5 separate regions of the Homo sapiens genome follow, and all the other regions are linked to region 1. Evidence: fine-mapped expression QTL. A gene starts in region 1. Each other region holds a variant in brackets. All regions are shown on one strand. Distances are from middle to middle. Region 1 holds the start of CTSB (cathepsin B). Region 2 overlaps FDFT1 (farnesyl-diphosphate farnesyltransferase 1). Region 3 has its middle 20 kb from the start of CTSB. Region 4 overlaps LOC729732 (a long non-coding RNA gene). Region 5 holds the start of FDFT1 (farnesyl-diphosphate farnesyltransferase 1).

Region 1 (6,189 bases):
GTGCCCAGTAAATATCACTCAACCGCACATGTTTCCAATAATTTCCTTAGGCCAGACCATTGAAAAGAGGCAGCAGACTGGGCGCAGTGGCTCATACCTGTAATCCCAGCGCTTTGGGAGGCCGAGGTGGGCGGATCACGAGGTCAGGAGTTCGAGACCAGCCTGGCCAACGTGGCAAAACCCCCACATTGGGATTTTTTTACATTGGATTTTTTTAGGAGAGACAAAAAATCTCTACTAAAAATAAAAAAATTAGCTGAGTGTGGAGGCACATGCCTGTAATCGCAGCTAGTTGAGAGACTGAGGCAGGAGAATGGCTTGAACACAGGAAGCGGAGTTGCAGTGAGCTGAGATCTTGCCACTGCACTCCAGCCTGGGTGAGAGAGTCAGACTCCACCTCAAAAAAAAAAAGGAGAGAGAGAAAAGAAGAATCGACATACCTGTAACTCCTCCCTCTCAATGTTTCAGTCCATATCTCGAAAGGACGGTATGTTACTCTACACAACCACAACTCATTACCAGATTTAAGAAAATTACCCCTCCACCGCGCGGTGGCTCATGCCTGTAATCCTACCACTTTGGGAGGCTGAGGCGGATCACTTGAGATCAGGAGTTCGAAAACCAGCCTGGCTAACATGGTGAAAGCCCGTCTCTACTAAAAATACAAAAAAAAAAAAAAAAGCCAGGTGTGGTGATGGGCACTGGCAATCCCAGCTACTTGGGAGGGAGGCTGAGACAGGAGAATTGCTTCAACATGAGAGGCGGAGGTGGCAGTGAACCGAGATCGCACCACTGCACTCCAGCCTGAGCGATAGAGGGAGTGTGTCTCAAAAAAAAAAAAAAAAGAAAGAAAAAGAAATTAAGAAAGAAAAGAAAATCACTGACAGACATCCCAAGGCACCCCTGAAACGTGACCTCCCTTCAATTCACTTCCCAATCCAACCAAGAGCAACAGAAAATATCTGTTACCCCTAAAATGGGTGCAACTTCTCTTCCAACTCCCAGGTCCAGCAGCTGGGGAAAGAAAAGAACCTGCCTACAAAAAGAGCCTCCCCAGTCTGCTAAATCAGCACCACATGGGCAGTTTCAACCTGGAACCAAAGGGCCACCACCCCTCACCGCCTAACCAGTTGGAAACAGGGCTGTCCTGAGCCAACACCCAGGAGAGCTGTGCCAGGGCCGTGTCTGGCCTGCGTTGCCACCTGGGGAGCAAGGGACCTGTGCCTTTCCACCAGGGGGTACCCCCAGCTAGAGGACAAATGACCAAAGACGAAGGGAAGCCTCTGTTCTCCAGGAGACGTTTGACTCTGTCTTTGGGAAAGCTACACAGGGTGGGCGGCCCAGCCCCTTTCTCCAGGAGCTGGCGGGTTCTAAGTCACCAGCACCAGAGCCAACAAGAAACAGTTCTTGGCCAGGCACCGTGACTCACCGGGAGGCCGAGACAGGCGGATCACCTGAGGTCAGGAGGTCAAGATCTGCCTGGTCAACATGGTGAAACCCCATCTCTACTAAAAATACAAAAATTAGCTGGGCGTGGTGGCGGGCACCTGTAATCCCAGCTACTCGGGAGGCTGAGGCAGGAGAATAGCTTGAATTTGGGAGGCGGAAGTTGTAGTGAGCCGAGATCGCGCCACTGTGCTCCAGCCTGAGAGACAGAGCCAGCCAACGCCCTCTTAGGCCTCTTCGCCTTACGTTCCTGAACGTTTGGATTCAAAGAGAGTGCATCTCAGCTATCCTCTCCTCCGGCAGCAGGCAGTGGGAATGTTTTTCCAGGCTACAAAAAGGTGCCAGGTCTGCATTTGAACCCCACAGCGTCACTTCTCCAGTGGGTTTGGGGGGTCTCTCGTCCGTTAGGAGGAGGAGTGTGGGGCCTGCGCTAGGGTCCTTTTCTTTGCCAGCCTGCTGGCTTTCTCAGCGCCTGGGAAGGGGGTGACAGAGGCCCACCAGGAAGCCAAGTGCAATTCACTTCCACCTGGGTCGCCCACCCCAGCCTGCCTGCAACGCCCCACACCCAGCACCCACTGCTCCCCAGAGGCCAACTCCCCCCGGCCTCCAGGGCTACTAACCGAGGGGGAGGTGGCGCCCCAGGGACTCTGCCCGGCCTCCCTTTACTGGAGTCCAGGAGCAGGGTGCGCCCCCGGCCTTCTCCCCACCGGCATCCAATCGCCCATTCGCCTCTTGGTTTCGCTGTCTGGTTTCTCTTCCTGTTTATGGATTTAACACCGTGCGGCTTCCTCCCCAGCCCACCCAGTGCCAGATTCCTGTTCTTCAACAGGACCTGTCTTCTGGGGTCCCAGGAATTGCGTGGGATCTTGCGCAGAAAGTTGGCCAGGCAAATCCTTCGCAATGAGGGGGAAATAAACCGAAAATAGATGCCGGCAGATGCGATTATGTCGGCAGTTTGGCCCGGAGACACCGAGGCCCAGGCGCTGGGAGCGCGGTCCCAGGCAGCAGTCTCCGGACCCGGCCGAGCTCTTCCTCGCAGGCGCCTCCCTCGGCGGTCCTGGCCGCGTCCCCGCTCCGAGGGCCGGGGTCCGGCGCACAGCCCGGGGAGGGGAGCGGAGGGCAGAGGGCTGGCGGGCGGAGCTGTTTTCTGCTTTTCTCGCCGACGCTTCGGAGCGCGCGGACTCCCACCCCAGCCCGCCCGTCAGGGACAGTCCCGAGGGTCCCGGCTCCCCGCCGGCCCCCAGGGACGCCGCGGGGCCGCGCCTGGGCCCGACTGAGGGCGCAGAGGAACCCGTCTCGGCGGCCGGGTAGCACCGTCCCCGCCAAGGTCACTTACGCTGCGGTGGCCCCGGGTCCCCAGCACTCACCCAGCGCTGCAGCCGAGAGCCTGCAGCCCAGCCTGCGCGCAGCGGAGCGGTTGGCGTTGCCGGAGCGGTTGCCGGAGCCCTGCAGCCGCCGTAGCCTGGGCCAGCCCCGGCCCTAAGTACCCTCCCGGCCCCGCCCCACGTGACCACCGCGCAGCCCCGCCCGGGCCCTCCCGCCGCCCGCGCACGGTGCTTCCCAGCCCCCACCCCCTCCCGCCACCTTCCGCCGCCCGCGCTCCCCGCTTCCCGGCCCCGCACACCCCCCGCCCCCTTCCGCTCGGGGTCCGGGGCCACCGCCGGGGGCGGGCGGGGGCCTGAGCGCGCGGGCTGGGGAAGAAGGGCTTGGAGCCCTGCGGGCCCTGGGTGGCGAAACGCTGCGAATTGGGGCCAGGGGATGGGGAAAAAGCCCCTAAAGGTGGTCCCAAGGCCCCCACCCCGCCTAGAAAAGTCCCCCCGCCTCGCGGGACCGCCTCCGCCAGAACCCGCGCCTGGGATCCCTGCCTGCCGAGTTGGCGGGGGTGGGGTGGTGGAGAGGGCGCCGTCGCTTATTTCATTCATTCAGAAGCCGCTGCAGAGGCTGGGGGTGGCGAGGCTGTGGACCCCACAGAACAGCCTTTAGAAGGGCCACTTTGTTGTTCAGAGAACGTACCCACAAAACACTACAGCTACGTACAAATAGAAAAGAGTGGCTGTCACTGCGAAGGAACCTAGGAGCTGCGTCAGGATTTCTAAGAGGAGAAGGACCTTGGGGGCGGAAATCGGTTTGGCACAGGAGTACCCGGAGACCTGCTCCGAGAGGACGGACAAAGTGCACATTTACTTGGGGTTTATTACCGGGAGGCCCTGGAAGGGAGATGCAGGGGTTGGCTCAAGACTCACCCTCCTCCAGACACTCCCCAAACAGCTTTAATCCTTAAGACAAACCTGCAAAGCAGGCATGACCCCAGTTGTATTCAAGAGGCTCAGAGGGGCTGGGTTCGGTGGCTCACGCCTGTAATCCCAGCATTTTGGGAGGCCGAGGCCGGTGAGTCACCTGAGGTCGGGAGTTCGAGACCATCCTGACCAACATGGAGAAACCCCGTCTCTACTAAAAATACAAAACTAGCCGGGCGTGGTGGCGCGTGTCAGTAATCCCAGCTACTCGGGAGACTGAAGCAGGAGAATCGCTTGAACCCGGGAGGCGGAGGTTGCGGTGACCAGAGATCGCACTATTGCACTCCAGCCTAGGCAACAAGAGTGAAACTCTGTATTAAAAAAAAAAAAAAGGCTCAGAAGAATCGTATTTTATCCAGGCTGTGGCGACAGTAAGAAGGCAGTAGCCGGGTGCAGTGGCTCACGCCTGTAATCCCAGCACTTTGGGAGGCCGAGGCGGGCGGATCACGAGGTCAGGAGATCAAGATTATCCTGGCTAACACGGTGAAACCCCGTCTCTAGTAAAAATACAAAAAATTAGCCGGGCGTGGTGGCGGGCGCCTGTAGTCCCAGCTACTCGGGAGGCGGAGGCAGGAGAATGGCGTGAACCCGTGAGCTGAGATCGTGCCACTGCACTCCAGCCTGGGCGAAAAGCGAGACTCCGCCTCAAAAAAAAAAAAAAAAAAAAAAAAAAAGGCAGTAGGACTGCATGGGACCTGGTTCCCTGCAGCCTGGTCGTCAGCTGTCACACAGCCCTGAGCCTGTCTTCAGAGACATGCCTGTACTCCCGCCTGGTTAGTAACAAACTAAGGATAGGAGTGGAAGGAAAAAATAATCTCTGGAGCCCAAACATGGTCACTAAGCCCCCAGCAGAGTGGGATACCCGAGGAACTGAGGACCAGGAGGCTGGAGGTCAAGGTGGTCCCAACTGCCTGCTCACCCTAGTCATATCCTGACAGCCATGGACTCTGGACTCCAAATCATTTCAGACCTCTATAAGGAGCTCATAAGATGGCCAAAATGGGGAGGACACAGCCAGAACCAGGATAACTCTCCCCTCTCTCATCCTTAGAGTGTGACAGAAGGTATGCAGAGCAGAGTGCTTGACATGCGTTATGGCTATTTGATGGAATTTTCCATCAGTGTCATTATAGAAATCACTTTTGAGAGGTAAAAATCACTTTTGAAACAAAAGAAACAGGCTAGGCGCGGTGGTTCACCACTGTAATCCTAGCACTTTGGGAGGCTGAGGCAGGCAGATCACCTGAGGTCGGGAGTTCCAGACCAGCCTGGCCCAAATGGTGAAACCCAGTCTCTACTAAAAATACAAAAATTAGCTGGGCGTGGTGGTTCACGCGCCTGTAATCCCAGCTACTTGAGAGGCTGAGGCAGGAGAATCGCTTGAGCCCGGGAGGTGGAGGTTGCGGTGAGCCAAAATCACGCCATTGCACTCCAACCCGGGCAAGATTCCATCTCAAAAGAAAAGAAAAGAAAAAAAGAAATAGGCCAGGCGCAGTGGCTCACGCCTGTAATCCCAGCACTTTGGGAGGCCAAGGCAGGCGGATCACGACGTTGGAAGTTCAAGACCAGCCTGGCCAACATGGTGAAACCCCGTCTCTACTAAAAATACAAAAATTAGCTGGGTGTGGCATTGCGGGCCTGTAATCCCAGCTACTCGAGCGCTGAGGCAGGAGGATCCCTTGAACCAGGGAGTCAGAGGTTGTAGTGAGCCGAGATCACGCCATTGCACTCCAACATGGGCAAGACTCCTCAAAAGACAAGAAAAGAAATATATTACTACCAGAGTAGAATTCGTCCCTTCCTGGAACATCCAGGAAAGCTTCATGGAGAAAGGAACATACAGCATATTTACTTGTATATGTTCCTTCCTGCCCTCACTGGATCTTAAGCCCCACCCAGGCAAGCATTTTTACCTGCGGTGTTCCCCTGCTTCATCCCAGCTCATTGCAGGGTGTCTGGCCCATAGCAGAGGATAGAGAAATGTGAGTTGAGTGGATGCATAATGAATGAAGTAGGCCTTGAAGTTGAGGAGAATTTTGGCTTAACCTGCTAGATTTGGGGGTCAGGGTTCAGGGCCTGGGGAACAGCTCTCAGAACTTACAGAGAGGCCTTGACTCACGTGTGTAAAAGCTGTTTGCTTGTTGAACATCCGTAAAAGAGGCCTAAGTTAACACCTGAAAGAGGTGAAAACATACGTCCTCACAAAAATCCGCCGGGCACAGTGGGCTCACGCCTGTAATCCCAGCACTTTGGGAGGCAGAGGTGGGTGGATTACTTAAGCCTAGGAGTTCAAGACCAGCCTGGGGAACATAGTGAGACCCCAACTCTAAAACAAAAGTTAATAACGTATGTATAAACTTACACCAGATGTTTATAGCAGCATTATTTACAGTAACCAAAAGGTGAAAACAACTCAAATGTCCATCCATTAAAAACCATTGCACGA
Region 2 (6,189 bases), 36 kb before region 1:
TTCCCATTTTTTTTGGCTATGGTGAATAGTACTGTGTACATTTGCATATAAGTTTTTGTGTAGATGTGTGTTTTCCTTTTTCTTGGGTCTATGCTGAGAAGTGGAATTGCTGGTTCATACAGCAGCTCGAACCTTGTGAGGAGCTGCCAGACGCTTTTCCAAGGTCGCTCCACCATTTTACATTCCCGTCAGCAGTGTGAGAGTCCCAGTTTCACCAGCACTTGTTGTTATCTCTTTTTAACTGTATGTATATATACTTAACATTTTATTTATAATAAATGTACATAATAGAGAATTTGCCATTTTAACTATTTTTAAGTCTATTATTCAGTGGCATTAAGTACATTAATGATGTTATATAACCATCAACACTATGTTTCCAGAACTTTCGCTAGCTTCAGAGAATCCTCTAAATAATATCATTAAAAATCATCAAGCCGAATCCCACTGTTAGAATTAAAGGTTTTATTTCACTTTCAAGTTATCAGGATCCAGGGAGGTGTAATACACTTAGAGGATAGACTCAGCTCATTTCCCAGCTATGCCTTTCAGCAGCTTTCTTACCAGAGTAGGAATATAATGTTAGTCATTATTTAGAGGCCTGGCCATCTTGAGAAGGTTTACTGTTTAGTCTGCAGTACAATTATAACTGTTTTTGTATATTGGGTTATTTTTTTCAGAAGTAGGCCAGTAGCTCTAACAGGAGCCTCTTTAGCCTGAATTCGTCCAAGTAGTGCAGTGTTGCACTAGTTGTCCCTCGGGACATGCTCCCCAATACGTAACTCACTTCCAGGTTGCAACTGGACACTTACTGGTAGTCAGAAATAGCTATTGCATGGAGCTTAAAATGAACTTGATCTTCGTGAAAGATGAGTCTGCAGCTAAGAGACTTTACTGTATATCATAGTGTTTTTTTTTGTTTTGTTTTGTTTTTGTTTTTGTGACGGAGTCTCACTCTTTCACCCAGGCTGGAGTGCAATGGCGAGATCTTGACTCACTGCAACCTCCGCCCCCTAGGTTCAAGCAATTCTTCTGTCTCACCCTCCTGAGTAGCTGGGATTACAGGCGCCTGCCACCGTACCCGGCTAGTTTTTGTATTTTTAGTAGACACAGGGTTTCACCACCTTGGCCAGGCTGGTCTTGAACTCCTGACCTCGTGATCCACCCTCCTCGGCCTCCCAAAGTGCTGGGATTACAGGCGTGAGCCACGGCGCCCAGCCTGTATCATAGTTCTTATGCACAAAGACCCTTTAATATTGTTTGTAAATTCTCCCCTATGCACACGCTGACCTGTTCCTTAATCTTCTTATCTGTCTAGGTTTGGAGCAGGTATGTTAAGAAGTTAGGGGATTTTGCTAAGCCGGAGAATATTGACTTGGCCGTGCAGTGCCTGAATGAACTTATAACCAATGCACTGCACCACATCCCAGATGTCATCACCTACCTTTCGAGACTCAGAAACCAGAGTGTGTTTAACTTCTGTGCTATTCCACAGGTAGGGAAGGGGGCTCCTCTGGGTGGATACGGGGCTAAAGGGAGTGGGGTAGGAGTAAGGGTGGATTTTGCTGTGCTATATTCAAGGATATGATTCCTTAAAAAGACGATGACTCCAGTTTATTACGCTGGGAGTTTCATAGCACCCGCCTTTGCTTCCAGCCACCAAACTCAGCTCAGCCTTGAGGTTAAGCCTGCTCCTTTTCAGAACCTTCTTTCTGGATTTACTATTTTCTACAGCTATCCTAAACTAGTTAGGTTCTTTTCCTCACAGTTAAGTCAAGGTCTTTGGCTTAGATTTATGGGGAGTGCTGGGTAAAACCTGGGTGAAGCTGTTATCATTAAAAAGTCTTCATTAAGCACCTAATTACTGCTGTCCTTTTCCTAGACCCGGCATAAAAAGAACCTGGTCCGGTAGACCTAGCCTCTCAGTATGCTAGGAACTTACACTTTTTAGTTGCCTTTACCAAGTATTGCAGATACTACTGCAAATAAGTGAAGAAAGTAACAGCATTTAACTGATTTGGGAACTTGGTTTGATCTTGTTCTAATGACCAACTTCGAATGGTGGTTGAAAGTAAAATCTGTATCGCCGTCTTATGTTTCCATTTACCTAGAAATACTTTACCTTTGAGCACAGGAAATTAATCCCCTTCTGGTTGTTCTCCCCCTGGCATTGGTTTTAAATATATAATGATTATGTTTGTTGTAGGAAAAATAGAAAAACAACTACAATAGAAAATTCTTCCCATATATTATTTTGAAATACATATTTCCGATCCGATAATCCATTGCTCTAGCATGGAAAATGTTGGATTTACTTGTGTTTGCTTTTTCCAAATAAAATGGAACTTTTGTGGCTACATTATAGAATTGTTTTAGACTGCTTAATTCTGTGTGTTGTTGAGAAAGGGAGGAGTGGGGAAGGTAAAAATCTTGACATACTTTCTTCGTGGGTATTTTTTCTTGAGCGATTCCATCTTAGTTGATTAGCAGTTAGCAATTGCCCATTCAACAGAAGGTTTTCTTACCTTTTTGTGATAATGATAGCTAACGACATCATTTCTTCTTTTTTCCCTCTCTTCTTGTTGTCTCTAGGTGATGGCCATTGCCACTTTGGCTGCCTGTTATAATAACCAGCAGGTGTTCAAAGGGGCAGTGAAGATTCGGAAAGGGCAAGCAGTGACCCTGATGATGGATGCCACCAATATGCCAGCTGTCAAAGCCATCATATATCAGTATATGGAAGAGGTGGGTTTTTATTTAACTACTTGGATAATTTGTAGCTACTTTTATGAT[T/G]TAGTAATGTCACTGTTTAACCAGGTTTGGATATTAGATGATCCTAACAATTCACTATCCTGTGGCCTAAAGAGACAGGAATTGATATCCTTTATAAGGAAAAAAGTCTATTCACAGGAGCCGAGCAGATTGCTCACTGCTGTGTAGTACCCTGGTGAGAGGAGATAAATGGAGCAAGGCTGTAGGTTGGAGCCCCTCAGTAGAATCATAGATTTTGAGCTGCAAGATGATGCAGGAGGCCAACCAAGCTTCTTGTTGCTGGTGAGGAATGTGAGGTTGAAGCTTGTCTGTGCTGATGCAGTGCGTGATTGAGTGGATCTCTGGCTCCCGTCCATGTGTCCTGACACCCAGTCTGGTACTTTCATTATGCCACAGGCCTCAATTGAAAAATCACAGTAGGGAATTTAGGCCAAGGAAAGCCATCAAGTTGCAATTATTTCCTAAATTTTCTTTGGAAAATTTCATTTCAAATACCAAAACCATCCTATAAAAAGAAAACTTACCTTCTTAGGTCAAATCTCTAATATTTGACTAGGTTCAAAAAGTTTATTTCTGGCCAGGCACAGTAGCTTACTCCTGAAATCCCAGCACTTTGGGAGACCAAGGTGGGAGGATCACTTGAGGCCAGGAATTCAAGACCAGCCCGGGCGACATAGCAAGACCCCATTTCTACAAAAAATTTAAAAATTGTCATGGTGGTGCACGCCTGTGGTCCCAGCTACTCAGGAGGCTGAGGCAGGTGGATCACATGAGCCTGAGAGGTCGAGGCTACAGTAAGCTGTGTGATTTCATCATTGCACTCTAGCCTGGGTGATAGAGTGAGACTTTGTCTCAAAAAAAAAAAAAAAAAAAAAAAAAGTCTTAGAGACCAGAAGTCTTTGTAATCTCTAATAATCTCTAGGCCCTAGAGCAGTGGTTTGTAAATGGAGGTGATTTGCTCCCCTCCCCCCAGAGGACATTGGACAATGTCTGGAGACATTTTTGATTGTCCTAACCGGCAGGAATCGGGTGCTACTGGCATCTGGTGAGTAGAGGCCCAGGATGATGCTGTGATCCTCAGGTGTGATCCTGTTGAGAATGAAACACTGTAGACTTTATGAAAACATACAAGACCCTCATCATTTTTCCTTTGCCTGAGCTCCCTCCCCAGAGGTTACCTCTGTTCATGGTTTTGTGCATCCGTCTAGTCCCCCTGTTACGCGTTTACAGGAATATGGTTTGCAACAGTGTTTTCATCTAAATAGAATTATACAAAATAGCGATTTCTGATTTCTCTTGCATATTGCACATTCTTCTTATACTTCCTCCCTACCTTTATCTGACACAGAAATGCTGTATGTCCAGAACTTCTATCAGAGGCACCTATGGAAGTCTAAGGGAAGACCACATCGCTTTTAAAAACCCTAAAATTTTGTAGTCACTAGATGAAAATATTCAGCCAGTGACCCAAAAAATTGCTACCAATGAGACTCTCCATTTTGCCATGTAGCCAGAACTTACTTTGATCTATGTGCCTGGGGTAGTGACCAAGTAGGTGGGTAGGAGTAATCTCAGGGAAACTTGAGGCCCCAGCCTCATGGCTAGGGTCATAATTTGAACCCAGGTCTGTCTGACATCAGAATCCATGATGTTAACCCCAATTCTAAGGGGTTCAACTACCCTTTCTAAATGGAATCCTGCTATATTAAGCACTATTTATTCATTTTATATAAACTAGAAACATTTTATGTAGTAAGTAGTTGAGAGTGTTTTGGTTTTGCAGTTTGATCACTAGTTTTAGAAACCAGTTTTTAAACACTTTGTGGCCAATTCCATTACTATATTAAAATTCAGATTTATTTGGTTTTTCCTTAACTATTGGGATTAAATCCTGGTTGTAATTCATAGTTTGAGGGCGAGGGTGGGCAGTCTACAGTTGGCTGAGCCCTGTTTTTGTGAATAAATGTTATCAGAACACAGCCACACCCATTTGCTTCTTTGTCTTCTGTGGCTGCTTTTGCAATGTGACGGCCGAGTTGAGGAGCTGCAACAGGCGATGACTTGTAAAGCTGAAAATATTTTTTGGCCCTTGAATAAGAGGTTTGCTGACTTCTGACTTAGGGTATCAGTTGTTCTGTTATCCCAGTAAAACTCAAGGCATTAGGGGAGAAATGTTAATATTAATACTTAAGTTGATTTGATTTAGGGAAATCTTTGAAGATTTCTAAGTCTTAAGCAGTAGAACCTGTTAATGGTTTTAGTTTCAGCAGTAAGGACATTTTACAAGTAAAGTTTTAAATGAAAACATTTTGTATGAAGCCACAAGTCGTCTGGCCTCTTGCTGGTGTCCAGATATTAACACTGATCCTATTTCTCCTTGCTGACCAAGTCTGTCCTTTGTAGTAAGAAAGGAAGAAACGTTGACTCTGTCCGATCTCTGGACTTAGTGTTGTAGCGAGCATGCACCTGGAAGGGACTTGCCAGAGGACCTCCTCATGCTTCTCCAGTGCTTAGTGGGGGCTTGGAGTGCAGCCCCAGGTCTTCACGAGCAGTTGGCCACACTGCAGGGCCCTCACCCCACTCTGGAGCAGCCTCTGCTTCAAACCAGCCTGGATGCTTGTCAGCTGGGGAGAAGATCAACCTGCTATTTTGGGATAGAAATAAATGCTCAGCCAAACGGCCAGAAACCCCCATTCCCCTCTCTGCCAAAGTGAATTCCTTGGCAGGGAGAATCTTGTTCGTGTCTCTGCACACTTCCTGTGCCCTCCTGTGGTTAAGTCAGAGAATCATCCGGCTCTTTGAGCCCCAGGTGCCTAGCTGCTCAAGGATGGTCCCCAGCCAGCAGCTGCCAGGAATCACCTGGGAGCCCATTAAGACATCCAGCCCCCACCCAAACGTATCGAATCAGAATCTGCCTTTTTTTCCCAAATGATGTTTTTGCTTTAATGGAAGTTTAGATGTTCATAGACAAGAGTTTTAAATGATGATCAAGCTGATTCCATATTCGCAGTTGTAAGTAGAACTGCTGAGACGTGGAAGTACCACATGGACTCACAGAGGAGCTGCTGTATGTAGCACAGCATTGCACAAGAGCTTATTTCAGTCTAGTAAACATTTATAGGAGCCTGTGTCATTTAATCATCAAGCCTCGCACTGTGGCTCACACCTGTAATCCCAAAACTTTGGGAGGCTGAGGCAGGCAGATCACTTGAGGTAAGGAGTTCGAGACCAGCCTGGCCAATATGGCAAAACCCTGTCTCTACTAAAAATACAACATTTAGCCAGGTGTGGTGGTGCACACTTGTCATCCCAGCTATTCCGGAGCCTGAGACATGAGCATCGCTTGAACTCGGGAGGTGGAGGTTGTAGTGAGCTGAGATGGCACCACTGCACTCCAGCCTGGGCAACAGGGTGAAG
Region 3 (6,189 bases), 20 kb after region 1:
TGGTGGGAAGTGAACTCTCCCTTTCCTAAGCCTGCTGGAGTTCATTCTCTGTCGTCACCTTGCTAGTGGCCTTGCAGGTACTTGTACCTTGCAGCATAAGTGCCACTACCCTGGGTTGCCCTGAAGGGAGAGATGGCACCCTACACTTCCCTGCCCTCACTCAGGACTGGTTCCTGCCTGCCTCCTCCCTCAGCTCCTTCCTGCTAAATGAGTCCATGGATGAGTTATGGGAGCCCCTCAGGCAATCCCCCACTGGCCTCAAGAGGTCTTGGCACTCACTATGCAATACAGTTAGAATTCTCTGGGAAGCAGACGGAACTGAACCATAACTATTATCGACTCTCGAGATACCTCCCCAAGATGTGTGTTCCCCTTTACCAGAAAATATGCCAGGCAGAGAAAGGAGAAAGTTTCATGCCAGAAGGATCCCTTGCAAAAGTCCCCTGGGTCTACAATCTACATTTGCTTTTTTTCTGTTTTGATTTGACAGTTGAAAAACAAAAACCTAGCCCGTCATTATTCTAAGTAAGGCAAGAGAAGCTTGACAGGATGCCTTCGTGAGCCCCTTCTCTGCAGCAGGGGAAGAAAGAAAAGGGGCTTGAAGCCTCTCTGCAGAGGCTCTTCCAGAGTGTGGCTGCAGGGTCCAGGTGACCCGTCAATGGCGGTAAGGACCCTGGACAGGCGGGCAGTGAAGAGGCCCCTTCGGTGTGGGACTGCCCCATATTGCATGGCACTACTTTGGACAGGGACTAATGAGACTGTGAAAACATGTTGCCTGGCCTCTGTCTCTTGGTGTCCAGAAACTTCTGCGTTACTGTGATGGAAGCATTCAGACGAGGCTGGTCTGCAGAGGCCACTGATGTCCTGGGTGCTCCTGAGCCTGCAGCCTCCTGCAAGCCCCCGCTCCACAGCCAGGACTCGTGAGGCCTTTGGAGGCCCTGGAGGTTTGCTTTGCCATCTCTGCTTTGAGGGTCACGGAAGCAGAGTCTGACCCCACAACCAGCCCCATGCCTTCCTTCCTCCCTTCTGTTCATTTTCCCAGTGAAGCTTAGAGGGCTCCTTCTGTTGGCCATGCCTGCCCACCCTGCTGTCCTGGTCCTGGGCCCAGACCACACTTGACTTTTCCTCTGTCTCCAGGATGCACTGGATGGCTGTGTGACTGCCCATGGCATAACCTTAGGGGGTGCCACTCACATAAATGGTGAGGTGAATTGCACTATGGAACGCAATAGCCCATGAGCCCCGTCCACAGCTCATTACAGTCCTGGTCAGGGCGGAGTCCATCAGAGGCTCCCCGGGTTGGCAATTCAGGGTTTTTGTTGCTGTTGTTTCGAGAAAGGATCTTGCTGTGTCATCCACGCTGGAGTGCAGTGGTGCAATCACGGCTCGCTGCAGCCTCAATCTCCCGGGCTCAACTGATTCTCCCACCTCAGCCTCCTAAGTAGCTGGAACCACAAGCATGCACCACCACGCCTACCTAATTTTTTATTTTAATTTTTTTCTTTTTTTTTCCACCTATGTGACAACTGAAGATCCCAGCTAATTCTTTTTTTTTAAGAGATGGGGTCTTGCTATGTTGCCTAGGCTGGTCTTAAACTTCTGGACTCACGTGATCCTCCCACCTCAGCCTCCCAAAAATGCTGAGGTTACAGGTGTGAGCTGCCGCATCCAGCATTTTTATTTTTTATTTTTTTGAGACAAGGTCTCACTCTGTTGCTCAGGTTGGAGTGCAGTGGCACAATCATGGTTCACTGCAGCCTCAAACTCCTAGGCTCAAGCAATCCTCCTGCCTCAGCCTCCCAAGTAGCTGGGACCACAGGTGTGTGTCACCACACCTAGCTAAATTAATTAATTAATTAGTTATTATTATTTTGTAGAGACAGGGGCTCCCTATGTTGCCCAGGCTGGTCTTGACCTCCTGGTATCAAGTGATCCTATCACCTTGAACCCTCAAAGCGCCTATCCCTATTTCTCTTTTTTCTAAAAGAAAAAGTTCAGTGACAATGACAAGTGGTAATTCACACGTGGCCTCAATGTTGCGGAGAAACTAAAGGACGGAGGAGGAAAAGTGGAACGTGTAAGCCTTAAATAAAGACGGTAGCTTCTACTTAGTTCTAGCAGATTCCTGCCAAGAGAGGATGATAGCAGAATGTTGCCATGGCTGCTTCTTTATTCGCTAGAAGCAGAAATCCGTATTTTTGGATGAAGCTTCCTGCTTTTTAAATGTTGGCTCAAATGAAAGACAAAACAGGAATCCAGGCTAGGGGAGAGGGTGACTTGGAGCAGGGGGCTTGCAGGGAGGTGTGAGAAGTGAGAATATTCTGAAGGCAGAGATTTCCTCATGGGTTGGGTGTGGGCTATGAGAGAAAAAGACAGAAAAAGAGGAAGCAGGATGATTCCAAGTTGTTTTTTTTTTTTTGAGACGGAGTCTCGCTCTGTCGCCCAGGCTGGAGTGCAGTGGCGTGATCTTGGCTCACCGGAAGCTCCACCTCCCGGGTTCACGTCATTCTCCTGCCTCAGCCTCCCGAGTAGCTGGGACTACAGGCGCCCGCAACCACACCCGGCTAATTTTTTGTACTTTTCGTAGAAATGGGGTTTCACCGTGTTAGCCAGGATGGTCTCGATCTCCTGATCTCGTGATCCACCAGCCTCAGCCTCCCAAAGTGCTGGGATTACAGGCATGACCCAATGCGCCCAGCTTCTTTTTTTTTTTTTTTTGGCTGAGCCTCTGGGCTCCTCCTAATGACCCCCTGCGTCCTGCTTTCTCCCTCACGCCTGGCATGTCAGTCTCAACGCAGCGCCCGAGGGCTTCTTTAAAACCCAAGTCAAATCATACACTCCTCTGCTCAAAGGCCACCAATCGCGCCCACACCATCAAAGTAAAAGCCCAGGCCCAGGAAGTAGAATGGGGGCTGTCAAGAGCTGGGGAAGGGGGAGCTAGTGTTTAATAGGTGTAGCGTTTCAGCTGGGGGATGAGAAAGTTCTGGAGATGGATGGTGGAGATGGTTGTGCAACAATGGGAATGCTATAAACGTGGGTGGGGAAGACTTCAGAGGAGGAAGTTTTATGGGGGAGAGCAGGAGCTCAGTTTGGGGCATGTCAAGAATGAGATGCCTTATTAAACATTCGAGCCAAGACACTGAACAGAGCTGAGTCTGGAGTTCACAGAGAGCCAAGCTGGGGACATGGATTTGCAATCAATCAGTGCACAGATGGCATCAGTTCCACGGGACTGAGAGTTCACCAGCGTAGCGAGAACAGCCAAAACCAAACCAAACCAAAACGTTCTCCACAGGTCCCAGGAGTGAGCCAGAGACTTTAAGCTGAAAGGTCAGCCATCCAAGGAGGGATCAG[G/A]AAGGGGAAGAGGAGGAACAGCAACGAGGGAGGGAGGACCGCCGGAAGGGTGAGCGCTATGCTCGTGGGCTCGGGCGGAGTGGCACCTCGGGAGCTTCCTACTATCAGGGTTTGTGCCTGCACGAATCTGTCTACAGCCACTGCTAAATCTGAGGGCCATTGGGAGGCAGTTCAGGGTTTGGAGTTGTGTGAGGAGACAAGGTTAGGGATGGGAATTGAGGAGCAGTGCAGGAGGGCCGGGCGTGTAGGGAGGTGCCCCATTGAAGGGAGTGGGAGTGTGTGGGTTGGGGAGCAGCTGTTCAGAGGGGTCCACTGTGGCCCCCAGACTCTGGGCTGATCCCCAGAGTAAAGAAGATGGACATATCCTCTAGGGACCTGCACTGTCCCCTCACACCCCCATAAGAATGGTCTGGGGCTGCTGATAGAAGGCTCCTCAGTCAACTGACTTGGGGACTGACAGGGTCTGATGGTGAGAGGCAAGGACAGGAAGGCCTGCAAAAACGAGGCCTGGTCTGTGGTATGGTCTAAATAGTGACTTCCCTCAAAGTCACACAGTGACGTCCTAAGCCCAACTACCTTAGAATGTGACTATATTTGGAGATAAGGTTTTGATTTTTGTTTTGTTTTAGAGACAGGATCTTGCTGTGTTGCCCAGGCTGGAGTGCAGTGGCATGATCATAGCTCACTGTAGCCTCTTCTACCTGGCTGAAGCGATCCTCCTGCCTCAGCCTCCTGAGTAGCTGGGACTACAGGCATGCGCCACCACACCCAGCTGTTTTTTTAAACAGTTTGTAGAGACAGAGCCTCACTATGTTGCCCTGCTGGTCTCAAACTCCTGGGCTCCAGCAATCTTTTCGCTCCCACCTCCCAAAGTGCTGGGATTACATTGTGAGCCACCACACCCAGTCTTTGGAGACACGGTCTTTAAAGAGGTAGTTAAGTTAAACGAGGCTGTTAGGGTGGGCTCTAATTCAATCTGATTGGTGTCCTTATAGGAGGAGGGAGAGACATGAAGGCTGCACATACACAGAAAAAAAAAAAAACCCAACAACATGTGGGGACACGGAGAAGGCATAGCCTGAGGAGAAACCAGCCATGCCAACACCTTGATCTCAGACTTCTAACCTCCAAAACTGTGAGAAAACGAACGCCTATTGTTAAGTTGCCCAGCCTGTGGTATTTTGTTACGGAAGCCTGAGCAAACTAACACAGCCTGGCATTTTTGCTCTGAAGTTTACAGGATTGATTGGAATTTATGGGAATAGATTTATAGTTGCACAACTCAATGCTATGCAGGGATTTTCTCCAGCGTGATTCCTTTGGTGAAACAGTGGCCCCCACTTCCTACTGTCTGCCCAAACCCAAGCCAGCGAAAGTGTCCATTCACCCATCCATTCAGTCATTTACTCATTCATTCAACAAATATTTATTGAAGACTTACTGTAAAGGTCTTATAAAAGGTGATGGAACCTTGTCCATATCAGGGTTAGACATGGCTAAGTTCTGGGGAATTAGAACATATTATTAATCTCCATAACAAATACAGCTTTTGATGACACACAGAAACGAATGAAATCGGACACAAAGTCCCAATCAGTTTTTGGAAATAATCCACAAAATAAATGGAAGTTTCAGTTCCATAAACAACTAAATTGGATCCAGATATCAGATAATTCCACATTATATTGAAAAAGAAGAAATCGGGCCAGGCATCAGCATGTTGGGAGGCTGAGGTGGGCAGATCACTTGAGGTCAGGAGTTCAAGACCAGCCTGGCCAACATGGTGAAACCTTGTCTCTACTAAAAATACAAAAATCAGCCAGGTGTGCTGGCACATGCCTGTAATCCCAGCTACTCAGGAGGCTGAGGCATGAGAATTGCTTGAACCTGGATGGCAGAGGTTGCAGTGGGCCGATTGTGCCACTGCACATGGTTTGGCTGTGTCTCCACCCAAATCTCATCTTGAATTGTAACTGCAAGAATTCCCATGTGTCGTGGGAGGAACCTGGTGGGCAGTGATTGAATAATGGGGGCAGGTCTGTCCTGCACTGTTCTTGAGATGGTGAATGAGTCTCATGAAGTCTGGTGGCTTTAGAAATGGGAGTTTCCCTGCACAAATTCTCTCTTCGCTTGTTTGCCCCCATGTGAGATGTGACTTTCACATTCCACCATGATTGTGAGGCCTCTCCAGCCATGTGGAACTTTAAGTCCAATAAACCTCTTTCTTTTGTAAATTGCCCAGTCTCTGATATGTCTTTATCAGCAGCATAAAAATGGACTAATACCATCTTGTATACTGTTTGGTTAATAAATGCCCTTCTGGGAGACAGGCCTCACAACATCCACAAAAGCTGGGCTGCTTTCTGGGGCAGAAAGAGCTTAATGAAGATTAATATCTTTGTGTTGAGTGAACTCTGAGATGGCTCCCTGTGGTCCCTGACTCCTGGTGTTCTCACCCTTGTGTAATGTCCCCAATTGTGTGCAGGCAGGACCTTCGATTTGGTTTTAACAAACAGAGAAGAGCAAAGATGATAGGATGTCACCTCTGTAAATATAAGATGACGACTTGTGTCTTGGTGGCAGACTCTCTCCTTTATAAGCTTTCATAAAGCAAGTTGCTTGATTGGGGAGGCCCACAAGGCAAGAAACACAGGGTGCCTTCTGGGAAAAAACACCTAGGAATCAAGGCCCTTTGTTCAACTGCCTAAAAGCAATTGAGTCATGTCAACGACCAAAAAGTGAGCTTGGAAGCAGATTCTCCCCAGTTGGGCCTTTCGATAAGACTCAACCTTGCCTGACACCTTGAGTGTGGTCTTGTGAGAGACCATAAAATGG
Region 4 (6,189 bases), 790 kb after region 1:
AATCCCAGCACTTTGGGAGGCCAAGGTGGGCCGATCACTTGAAGTCAGAAGTTTGAGACCAGCCTGGCCAAACCTCATCTCTACTAAAAATACAAAAGTTAGTCAGGCATGGTGGCATGCACGTGCATTCCCAGCTACTTGGGAGGCTGAAGCAGGAGAATCGCTTGAACCTGGGAGGTGGGCTCCCCAGGCTTAAAGCAAAACCCCCATCTTGTCTGTCTCCACTCTCATCCCAGGCAATCGCGGTCATTTCCACAGCCTCAACCACTGTCTACCTGGGATGCCTCCCAAGCCCGAGTCTCCAGCCCAAATCTGCCTTCCTAGCCCCAGACCCATCTGTCCTGGCACACATTGCCCCCTGGGTCCCAAGCAACCTCAGCCAATGAGTCCAACGTCAACTTCCTGTCCTTGCCTGACACTAACAGCCCTGAGATCAGACCTGACCATTCACCTCCAGTACCAGATAGGTCCGTCAGTCCTTTGGAACATATCCCACGAACATTCCCCAAACCAGGCACCGGACTCCACACATCAACACCGTCACGTGAGTCACCAGCATCCCTGGCAGGGACCCCTGTCCCAGCCTCCAAATCATCTCCTTCCTGTCCCTTGAGTTCTGTGTCACATTCCAGAGGCCACAAGAAGAAAAATGACAACCTTACTGAAATTAAAAGAATTGAGAAGACATCTCCATATGGTCCAAAGTCTTTCCAACTGAGAAACACATATCAAGATCCAGCCTGCCAACCCTGGGGTTAAATGTTCCTGAAATAATTAAAGCCCAGGGCAACACAGCCCCCATTCCAAAGTACTCCCAACATAGTAAGACTTGCTTCTCTGGATGGGCTCGAAATGTCCAGTGTGTACCCTGCCCCTCTCTGTCGTAGCTAACAGGAATGTGTTTCATGTCTTCTTCCTGCTCGAAGGACCATCCACCAACCTGTGCAGGCAGCACTTTTGGCCAGGGGAGGATGCTAGAACTTCCCACCATTTCCCACTTACGCACTGCATTCCTCAGGAGCCTGCCTCACAAATTACAAGAGCGCCACAGCAGACACAACACGTTCCAGCAGGTGGCCATGTCTTCATGTCAGCTTGAAAGATCATCACCAGGGAAATATCTATATCTCGGCAGAGAGAGCTTCAGCCTGTGTAGTCCAGCTGTGCTCAAATGGAAATCCAGAAACCCAGATGTTGGTCCAAACACCCTGTCTCAGGGAGCTGGCTCTGCAGGTCCCCAGCGTGGGAGTGAACCGGGTGGGCCACCTGCCCTTCCTGCCCACATCCCTGCTTCCTGGAATCCTGGACCCTGAGAACCAGGGGGACATGGTGGGGAACAGGCAAGTCTTGTGCAGAAAGCCAAGATGCCACCCAAATCCACTCTGCAGTCTAGGTGGGTGACATTCTGCTCTGCACCACACCAGTACATGAGGGGATGGAGGATGGAGTCTAGACAACCCAAATGTAGAAAGATATTGCCCAAGTATTTTGTGATTTGTCTGTGTTACAATGCTATGCCCAGCCCAGGGTGGTGGCTCACACATGTGATCTCAGCACCTTGGGAGGCCGAGCTGGGTGGATCACCTTAGGTCAGGAGATTGAGGCCAGCCTGGCCAACATGGTGAAACCACATCTCTACTAAAAATACAAAAATTAGCCAGGTGTGGTGGTGGGCAACTGTACTCCCAGCTACTTGGGAGGCTGAGGCACGAGAATCACTTGAGCCCAGGAGGTGGAGGTTGCAGTGAGCGGAGATCATGCCACTGCACTCCAGGCTGGGCAACAGAGTAAGACTCCATCTTAAAAACAAAATAAAGATAAATAAATGCTATGCCCAGCATTTTCAATGTACTGTCTTATTATCTCAGTAAATCCCATGTAACCTTCCTATGAAAGTGTATCTCATTTATCTCCATTTCATAGATGAGAAACCTGAGGCCCCTGGAGTTGTATTAATTTTCCAAGACTGCATTGCTGATAAAGAGTACAGCAGGGACCCAAGCTTGACACTCTCACCCTCAAACATTTCCACAAGTGTAGACCAATGGCTCTCAACTGGAGTGGTTTGGCTCACGTACAACTCCCTTGCTCCACGGCATTTGAAACCATCTGGAGACATCTGGAGTAGCCATAACTGGGAGGGTAAAATGGTACCTAGAGGATGGAGACCACAGATGCTGCTAACCATCTTACAATACACAGGACAGCCTCCCCACCACCACCACCACCATGAATGGTCTGACCCCAAATGTTGTGACTGTGCCAAAGCGGAGAAACCCAGATTTCTCCTCAGCAAGAAGGAAAATCCCTGCAACGTGGATGCACCTCTGCAGGAATCCCTCTGCAGGAGCCCCAAGATGAGAATAACCTTCCTGATCTGGTTTCAACCCTGGATGCTTTCAACTGGTGCGTCCATCAAGGATTTCAGGGACTCCAGTGAGTTATTATCCTCGAATGCTCGGTTCTGCCTGACAACCCAGAAATCTCTGACAAGATGCCTGGTCTTGGGGAAGGCTCAGCAAGTGGTTGAGGTTGATAACCAAATACCTAGGAGAGACTTTGCTCTCCCTCCAGGAGGAGCTGTGGGTCAGACACACCCTGGGATCATTCACAAGTTGTCAATAAAGGCTTGGGGAGGGCCAGGTTTTCTAGGCCTTCTCAATGGGGTCGGTGTTTGTGGATACACAAGAAGCCTGTGAAACTTCTGATATTGGCAGGAAATCAATGC[A/C]CCCCACCCTCCACCTCCCCACATCCCCACTATAAACACATGCCCTGCAGCAGGACTTGCAACACAGGGGCTCCTGGGGTCCCGATTTATCTGCTAAAACATCCTCTAGCCACCACCGAATAAAGAAACCCCTTGCCACCCAACCACAAGAGCACAGCCTGGGAGCCACTCCAAGGGACACCAAGTCACATTAAAACCTCAGCCATCCAGAGCACCAGGCCTGGTGATGAGAAAGAACATTTTATCCTTAAAAGCATCTGAATGCCCATGCTGCTTCTTATAGAGAAAAGTCCAAAATAATCTGATATTAAAGAACGAGGATGGTTTTGGCATTTTTACCAAGCTAGTGGTCTACGCAGACAAAATCTCATAAAAGGGCACTCTGTTCTTCTTGATCCACTCAGACATGGCCTGTGAGTGAAGAAACTGGCTCTTGTCCTCAAAGAAATCACTGCTGATCCTCGTACCAGCCTGACACTGCTTCATGGGTTCTTCAGAAAGAGTATTTCCATAGAAACTAAAAAGGAAGAGGAATGTGTCTGGCGGGCATTGTGGGCAGCAGTGGGCTTTGGGCCAAATTTTAAGTTTGAAAATCAAGATTCCCTCTTTTCAAGGGGCCACTGGACTGAGCAGATACAGACACCGTGAAAAGAGGGTGCCATGTTCAGATTCAGGAAACAAGGATGGTTTCTATTCAGTTCCTCCATCATCCTTCAGGTCATGCGATTCCCATTACCCTCTGTGGACCAAACAATTCAGTGGGGTTTCTGTCTTTTAAATATTTCATTATCAACATATCATCCTTTTAGCCTCCAGAAAGCATTTTAACATGGAGATTCTGGCTTAAGACTCTTGTGGGTCTGTCTGTCTCTCTCTCTCTCTCTGTCTTTTCCTTGAAACAGGATCCCACTTTGTCACCCAGGCTGGAGTGCAGTGGCATGATCACAGCTCACTGCAGCCCGACCTTCCAGGCTCTAGCAATCCTCCCACCTCAGCCTCCAAAGTACTTGGGACTACAGGCACACACCACCATACTTGGCTTTTGTTTTGTTTTGTTTTGTTTTGTTTTGTTTTGTTTTTTGGTAGATATGAGGCTTCACCATGTTGCCCTGGCTCGTGTTAAACTGCTGGGCTCAAGCGATCCCCCCTTCACCCTCTCAAAGTGCTGGGATTATTGGCTTGAGCCACCACGCCCGGCCAAGGACCTTGTCTCTTGTGATGCACCCCAGAACAAAACATCACTGCAAAAACACACTAAGGCATGAGTTTCAGTCCTGAGTCCCATTTATCCGCCATACACTATGTGCCAGGCACAACGCTAAGTGCTTCTATGGACGAGTTTCCCTTAATCTCAGCAGTAACAACCGCAGGCACTGGGGTCTGTAGACCGATCCATTTGCCACTGAAGACAGTAAGGCTCATAGAGGGTAAGTGGCTTGTGCCATGTCAGCCAGCGAAGGAGGGGCAGAACCAGGATCCAAACCCCAGCTGCCTGGCTCCAGACTCGTGTTCCCAAGGTCCCACTACGCTTGGTCACCTTACTGCATTATAGTATCCTGGTCTTTGGCAGAGTCCACGTAAAAGAAGGAGGTAGAGGGAGTGAGAGGGCCTTCACGCAATAAAGTTTCCCGGCGTTACACTGCCACCGTAATTGTGTTCCCGATCAGGACCTCTCCCTTCTTATCCTGTCCGTGATTGGCCCTGGAAAACCTTCCAGAGAACTGTCCTCCTTCTCCTGGGATCTCAGAGAAAATTCACCTGAGTTCAGTGTCCAGGTGACCCAAGCTCTGAATGCAGTAACGAGCACAGGGAGATGAGGATGTCACCATGAGAAAGCCTCCCAGGCAGCATCCGGGAGCAACCCCAAGACTGGGCAGGGTGGGGCTCTGATGCAGCCCACGGCGAGGAGGGCTGCCCATGCTGCCTAAATGGGTTCAGAATGAAGGCCGCCCTCTCTCCCATGTGGGGCTCATTAACCACGAATCCAATTATTAAGACAAGCTCAGTTAAGTAAATGGTCAAACATAAAAACATGTGGAAGGAACAAAGAGGTCAACCCCATTATCCATCAAAAACCATCAAGGTGGCAGCAGTCACTGAGGGGTACAGCTCTCCAGCTGGCCTTCATCTGCTCTCCAAACTCACGTGCCTCCCCAGTGGAAGGCCAGCAAAGCCACACAGGAAGATTTGGGGTAGGAAAGCAGAAAGTGAACCCCAGGAGGCCAGGCTGGCCACGGAGCACCATCCCACACACACAGGCCCGGTGACTCAGGGGCCCACGTGTGCAGGACACCGGGAGCTCATAGGGACAGCGCCCCAGGGAATGCAAGGAACTTTGCCTCTCTGTCCCTCTCTGTAGGGATGGAAAGAGAACGATTTCTGGGATGGAAGCCATCTGCCTCCTCTCAACTCTGGCTGCCCAACTAGAAAGGGAAAAAAAAAACAGGAAGATGCGGGACAGGTGACGAGCTGGGTGAGCGCCACCAGCCCGCAGCCCAGCAGAGCAGGGCTTGGCCAAGCCTGGCACCAGGGACTTCCCCCCTGCCCCCACCACAGGCCCCTCGCCAGGTGAGAGGCACCGACAGAGTCCCAGACAGATGCCCCAGACAGGATGCCCAGGGCAACCCCCGCCCCTTCCCCTGCTGGGGGCCCCAGGACGCGGGGCTCCCCCTCCCCTTTTGGCCAGCTGCAGAGTCCAGCGGGTATCCCAGCCAGGGACGTCGTGGGAGAATCAGGAAGTCGAAGCCACACAGCCGAGAAGGGGCAGCTGGCGTCTCGGAGGCCGTCACCAGCTGTCACTCCGTGCCGCCGGAGTTGCCGCTCAGTAACCAACTTCAACCCGGAACCGGCCACGGAGCCTCCCGCCGCCTCTACCCCGCGTCCCCGGCACCTCCGCGCCCCCGGACCCCCGCGCCCGCGTCACTTACTCCTCTGCCGTCGCCACCTGTCTGGGTGCCGGTGTCCTCCTTGCCCGGCCGCAGCGCGTCCTCCCCGTCCTCGCAGTCCTCGGGCTGTGCTCTTCCCCCCTCCAGCAACAGCCGCAGCCTCTTCTCTTCAGGAGGGACGTCGTCCTCCTCCCTCCTGGGCCGGCCATCCCTGCCTCGGGGCTTGCCAGTGGCTTCGGAGCTGCCGGAAGGGCTGGCCATGGCTCCAGGGGCTCTGCCTGCACTTGGGGAAAAAGAAGCACCCGGGGCGAGCGTCCTCTCGGCGGAGCTGGGGCGTCTGAGCGCGAGCTTGCTGGGTCCGCGAGGCGCGGAGCTGGGCATCGGGGCGGGCGCGGGCTCCTCCGCGGGCCGCTCCTGGCTCTCTGGCGCCCTCTGCTGGCCTCTCCCGCGCAGCGCGGACACGCCGGGCCCGGGCCTGCGCCGCGCTCACCTGTCCTGGCCCAGGAGGTCGCTGTCCCTTGCCCGTGGCCAGGCCCGCTCTGGCCAGGCCCTGCACCTCCTCCCCGCCCCAGCCAG
Region 5 (5,627 bases), 66 kb before region 1:
TATTGCCACAGAGTCTGTTCCGTTAGTCTTATGATCTCTGTTTTAATGTTAATGCCAGCCAGTTGTGTATGAACTCCAAAAGGAAGGGGGTACAATGAGGGCTATCTGATCTCCTGTCCCGTTATTTGAAATGCTTTTTCCCTGGTGCTGGAAAGAAATAGCACTTGTAGGCTGGGAGCCGTGGCTCACGCCTGTAATCCCAGTACCTGGGGAGGCTGAGGCGGGCGGATCACGAGGTCAAGAGATTGAGACCATCCTAACCAACATGGTGAAACCCTGTCTCAACTAAAAATAAAAAAATTAGCTGGCCGTGGTGGTACATGCCTGTAGTTCCAGCTACTCGGGAGGCTAAGGCAGGAGACTCACTTGAACCTGGGAGCCAGAGGTTGCAGTGAACCAAGATCGCGCCACTGCACTCCAGCCTCACGACAGAGTGAGACTCCATTTAAAAAAAAAAAAAAAATGAAGAAGAAATAGCACTCGAAGGCTGGGCGCAGTGGCTTGCCTGTAATCCTAGCACTTTGGGAGGCCGAGGAGGGTGGATCATGAGGTCAGGAGTTCAAGACCAGTCTGGCCAACATGGTGAAACCCTGTCTCTACTAAAAATCGAAAAATTACCCAGGCGTGGTGGTTGGGCGCCTGTAATCCCAGCTACTCGGGAGGCTGAGGCAGGAGAAGCACTTGAACCCAGAAGGCAGAGGTGGCAGTGAACCGAGACTGTGCCACTGCACTCCAGCCTGGCAACAAGAGTGAAATTCTGTCTCAAAAAAAAAAAAAAAAAAAAAAAAAAAAAAAAGGCGCTTGAACATTAATTTACTAAGCAGGCCATTTTTACTTCCTGCAGAAAGGGTACACTCGCCAGCAGTTTTGCCATGGGAGTATACCAAACAAAGGAGACAGGGTCATTTATAACCTGACTCGTCCACCCCACTGCTTGTGTCTAGTTTCCATTGGCTGGAACGGTGCCTCACGTTCTGTATTTGTCCCGATTGGCTAGCAACTTAGAAGTTTTTAAAAGAGGCAAAGGTAGAGGAGAACAAAGGAAGGAGGAAGTAACTTGTGGAATGGTGACAAAGGTTGAAACACCTTCAAATAAGGAAGAGGAACAGGCTATGACCTAATGCTTTCTTGGACCACTATAAGCATGCCAGGGCAAATATTTAGGCTAAATTGTGAGAGCTAAGAACATGAAGTACATTGATTTCTTTATCATAGCTAGCAGATATTTAAGAATGTTAGCACAGGTCTTTGAATAAAGTTTGCTTCTAAGAGAAGTTACTATTTATTCCTAATTAAATGGGGAGGAAAGTCTTTGAAGAGGAACCTCTACTTTACTTTTTATACCGTCATGGCTGGAAACTAAGTTTTTAAGATTTTTCTGGGGTTCCCTTGGCCGAGGTGGGGAGTGGGAGGGCTGTCCAGTGGTAGGGACTTAGGATTTTTAGTTTACAGTAGTAGGGGAAACACTCTGTAATCTAATACATAAGTAAATGATGTATTAGAATATGGTAAATATAGGCAAGTAGACCCCCACTGGGATTAGCAGTGGTGGAAATGTGAGAGAGGGCAAACAGGTGGGTCTAGATGAGGTGTGAGCAGACTCGAGGGGCACAGGAGTTAGTCAAGCCAGTATCTGGGGGATAGTGCAGGAATAGTGAACAGCTAGACAAAAAGTCCTAGGGCCAGAGAAAGCAAAAGCATAAGAGATGGAGGCCAGAGAGGTAATCTGGGTGGAAGGCTGCAGCCTCTCAGGATCCCTATAGGTGCTTTGGCTTTTGTTGGAGAGACACTGAACAGCTTTGGGCAGTGAACGTACCTGACAGGTTTCCTGTTTGTTTTTGAGATGAAGTCTCGCTCTTGTCCCCCAGGCTGGAGTGCAATAGCGCGATCTCAGCTCACTGCAACCTCTGCCTCCTGTGTTCAAGCGATTCTCCTGCCTCAGCCTCCCAGGTAGCTGGGATTATAGGCGCCTGCCACCATGCCTGGCTAATTTTTGTATTTTTAGTAGAGACGCAGTTTCAGCATGTTGGCCAGGCTGGTCTTGAACTCCAGACCTCAGGTGATCCGCCCGCCTTGGCCTCCCAAAGTGCTGGGATTACAGGCATGAGCCACCGCGCTCGGCTAGACCTGACAGGTTTTAAAAGGATTACTGGTTGCTGTGTTAAAACAGACTGCAGGATGGCTTAGGTAGCCAGTAGGTTTTTTTTTTTTTTTGGAGACGTAGTCTTGCTCTGTTGGCCTGGCTGGAGTGCAGCGGTGTCATCTTGGCTCACTGCAAACTCCGCTTCCCGGGTTCAAGTGATTCTCCTGCCTCAGCCTCCGGAGTAGTTGGGACTACAGGCGCCCACCACCACACTCGGCTTTTTTGTATTTTTAGTAGAGACGGGTTTCACCATGTTGGCCAGGATGGTCTCGATCTCTTGACCTCGTGATCCACCCGCCTTGGCCTCCCAAAGTGTTGCGATTACAGGCGTGAGCCACCACGCCTGGACGGGTAGCCAGTAGTTTCTAGGGCTGGAGAGATCTAGGATGAGAGAAGTTTCCACATTCCTGTTACAGGCTCTCTAAGGCTTCAGCTCCTTTTTCTAGGACTAAGCTGGATCTCAAGTAAACACTAGAGAGGGGGCAGCTGAAGCTCCAGGAGTGTGTGGGGCTCCCTGGGGCTGGATGGCGGTGGCGGGCAGGCGAGCTGGGCTGTGCTCGGGTGTGTTACAGTAAAGACGCCCAGCTTGGCGCTGGCCCGGCCTTTTCACGGTTTTAGGCTCTACAGAGAGCGGCTGCAGAGCTCACCCGGCTGGCAGGAGCCACCGAGGCCGGACACGTGGGCGACTTATTGACCAAGTGGGGAGGAAGCAGCCCCGCACTGCTCTCCCGACTGCGGACCACCGTTGGGCTCCTGCGCATCCTAAGCCCCACCGCCTCACCTCCAGTCCCCACAGCGTTCGCGCTCCCAGCCGGGGTAAGCGGAAGAAAACAAAGGCCCGGCTCCATCAGGGCACCAATCCCGCTCGTCGGCCTCTTTCTCGGCCTCCAATGAGCTTCTAGAGTGTTATCACGCCAGTCTCCTTCCGCGACTGATTGGCCGGGGTCTTCCTAGTGTGAGCGGCCCTGGCCAATCAGCGCCCGTCAGCCCACCCCACGAGGCCGCAGCTAGCCCCGCTGGCGGCCGAGGCCGGTTGAAGTGGGCGGAGCGGCGGGCGGGGCGTCGCCGTACTAGGCCTGCCCCCTGTCCGGCCAGCCCCTCGAAGCACCTACTCCACAGGTCCAGCCGGCCGGTGAGCGCCTGGGGACCGCAGAGGTGAGAGTCGCGCCCGGGAGTCCGCCGCCTGCGCCAGGATGGAGTTCGTGAAATGCCT[T/C]GGCCACCCCGAAGAGTTCTACAACCTGGTGCGCTTCCGGATCGGGGGCAAGCGGAAGGTGATGCCCAAGATGGACCAGGTGGGCCGAGCCTCCCTGCTTGCCCGGGGCGGGGAAGGAGCTCGCTGGGCCGGCCTCAGGGCCTGAGCGGCCGGGCCCGGATCTGGGGCAAGGGGCGCGGCGAGCAGGGCCGACGCCTGGGTGTTCCCGTCCCCCTTTCCTCGAGCCTTCCCCCTGTAGGGCCCGGGTGGACGCGGCCGTCCTGGCTGACCTGTCCCTGCCCCCGCAAGCCGCCCTGGGCATGAGCGACTTTTGCGTGGTTCCCGGTGGTTGCGCTCCCCGTTTCGTCCCCTCCGTGAGCATCGGCGCTTACCGGTATTTTAACCCGAGGGTTACACATCTGAGGCAATGTGGGTGGGTTACGCGGGAGAGGACGAGTGAGTTTTTTGGTAAGCGGAATGAACTATGCAGATAACATCACATGAAGGCCGTTTCTGGAATGAAGTCTGACTCCTCCAGTTTCACCACCTCTTCCGGAGCTCTCCCCGCCTTGCTGCCTTCCATCGCTTCATCCTCGGTGCTTCCTGAGTTTTAAAATCGCCTATCTACGCTTCCAAGTTCCAATGAGTTATCTAACGTCTATGGATTAGCTAGGTGGTTGGTGGAAGGTCAGAACTTGGTTTTACTTAGATTTTTATCTGCCTCATGCCTGTACTATTTGTTTAATGAATGCATAGGAGGTGTTTTTATTCCAACAAGAAAATTATTCGTACGCGATTATTGAATGAATAGACAAATTCAGCCAAGTTCTTCTGGTCTGGACCAGCCTGGCTGATTTCTGTAACTTTTTTGGGCCAACAGGACAGTAGCAAATGTGACTCAGGCCGAGGCTTGATAGGTGCCTGAACATCGGAGTCTTTCTTTCAGTGTCCATGTGCTTCAGTAAACACACTAGAAAATAAATTTCTGGTTTTTGTCCCCAGTAGACTACACCCTCATTTGGTGTTATTTTTCACGTGCTATCTTTAATACAGGTACATCCTTCAGTCTATTTGTAGAACATTCAGTTTTCTTCATCTTTTCTTTGCCGGTGCTACATTATTTGAATTATTTTGCTACAGAATAACTTCTATTATTTGATATGGCAGATGTCACTTTTTATATTTAGATATAGCATTCATTTATTTAACAAATATTTGACGACCAGTTGTATATCAGATAGTGTTCTAGGTGCTGGAGGTACAACAGTGAACAAGCTAGGTGAAGACCTTGATTTTATAAAACTTACTTTTTAGTGGAAGAGAGACAATTTAAGAAAGCGAATGTACAGTTTTTCACGTGGAGAAAAGCACTGCAGAGGAAGATACTAGCAGGGCAAGGGATCTGAGTGCAGTCAGACCTCATTTGGGTCCAGACTTCATTCCTCTATGTCTCTTTCCTTTCTACAGAAAGACTGTTAGAGAAAATGGTAGCATTGGTTTCCTGTTGGGAGGGAAAGTGGGTGGTCATGGTAAGTGGGTAGAGAAAGACTTCACAGTATACTGTTTTTGTACATTTTGAGTTTTTTTAAAAGCGAGACTTGAGCTATTCTAGCTCTGATAATATGGTGCAGTATTTGTTATGTTAGTTGTAGTCTTTCTGGGCAGTTTTTACATCCCCATGAGCCGTTAAAAAAATACCTGAACCTTTAATTAGGGGAAATAAATTGGAAAAATACATTTCCCTTCACTTAACATTATCTTAGTTTCTCTTTTTTTTTTTTTTTTTTTTTGAGATGGAGTCTTGCTCTGTTACCCAGGCTGGAGTGCAGTGGTGGCGGGACCTCAGCTAGATGCAGCCTCCGCCTCCTGGGTTCAAGCAATTCTCCTGCCTCAGCCTGCTGAGTAGCTGGGATTACAGGCACCTGCCACTACGCCCGGCTGATTTTTTGGTATTTTTAGTAGAGACGGGGTTTCACCATGTTGGTGAGGCTGGTTTTGAACTCTTGACCTCAAGTGATCTGCTCGCCTTGGTCTCCCAAAGTGCTAGGATTACAGGCGTGAGCCACTGCACCCGGCCTTTTTTTTTTTTTTTTTGAGGGGGGGGTCTCACTCCATCGTCCAGGCTAGAATGCTGTGGCCTGAACATGACTCACTCCAGTTTTGACTTCCTTGGCTGAAGCCATCCTCCCACCTCGGCTTCCTGATCCCGAGTAGCTGGGACTCCAGGCACGTGTCACCAATGCATGGCTAATTTTTAAATTTTTTTGTAGACACAATGTCTCGCTGCATTGC

Evidence for each region.
Region 2: its variant is fine-mapped to the expression of CTSB in whole blood (INTERVAL, PIP above 0.99).
Region 3: its variant is fine-mapped to the expression of CTSB in whole blood (TOPMed, PIP above 0.99). The same link has a PIP of 0.9 or more in blood mononuclear cells.
Region 4: its variant is fine-mapped to the expression of CTSB in cerebellar hemisphere (GTEx, PIP 0.96).
Region 5: its variant is fine-mapped to the expression of CTSB in whole blood (TOPMed, PIP above 0.99).

Annotation. Positions count from the first base shown.
Region 1 is chr8:11,865,188-11,871,376 of GRCh38, forward strand. CTSB (cathepsin B) reads right to left here and starts at 2,900. Exons shown (of 10, transcript NM_001908.5): 1 at 2,814-2,900. RefSeq lists an enhancer at 2,164-2,373 and silencers at 2,464-2,793, 2,934-3,053.
Region 2 is chr8:11,828,926-11,835,114 of GRCh38, forward strand. FDFT1 (farnesyl-diphosphate farnesyltransferase 1) reads left to right here. Exons shown (of 8, transcript NM_004462.5): 6 at 1,319-1,495; 7 at 2,593-2,745. Among named protein-coding and RNA genes, the nearest start is that of FDFT1, 29 kb to the left of the region's middle. The variant T/G (reference allele first, on the strand shown) is at 2,794.
Region 3 is chr8:11,884,999-11,891,187 of GRCh38, forward strand. No RefSeq gene overlaps it. Among named protein-coding and RNA genes, the nearest start is that of CTSB, 20 kb to the left of the region's middle. RefSeq lists a silencer at 6,127-6,189. The variant G/A (reference allele first, on the strand shown) is at 3,355.
Region 4 is chr8:12,653,475-12,659,663 of GRCh38, forward strand. It overlaps LOC729732 (a long non-coding RNA gene), which reads right to left. Exons shown (of 9, transcript NR_047662.2): 2 at 5,656-6,189. Among named protein-coding and RNA genes, the nearest start is that of MIR5692A2, 63 kb to the right of the region's middle. RefSeq lists an enhancer at 5,163-5,815 and a silencer at 6,011-6,130. The variant A/C (reference allele first, on the strand shown) is at 2,729.
Region 5 is chr8:11,799,497-11,805,123 of GRCh38, forward strand. FDFT1 (farnesyl-diphosphate farnesyltransferase 1) reads left to right here and starts at 3,245. Exons shown (of 8, transcript NM_004462.5): 1 at 3,245-3,435. The coding sequence starts at 3,337. It overlaps LOC105379243 (a long non-coding RNA gene), which reads right to left and starts at 1,859. Exons shown (of 3, transcript XR_948962.4): 1 at 1,817-1,859. RefSeq lists enhancers at 519-1,162, 1,292-2,034, 2,035-2,776, 2,814-2,973 and silencers at 807-866, 3,044-3,293, 3,504-3,623. The variant T/C (reference allele first, on the strand shown) is at 3,357.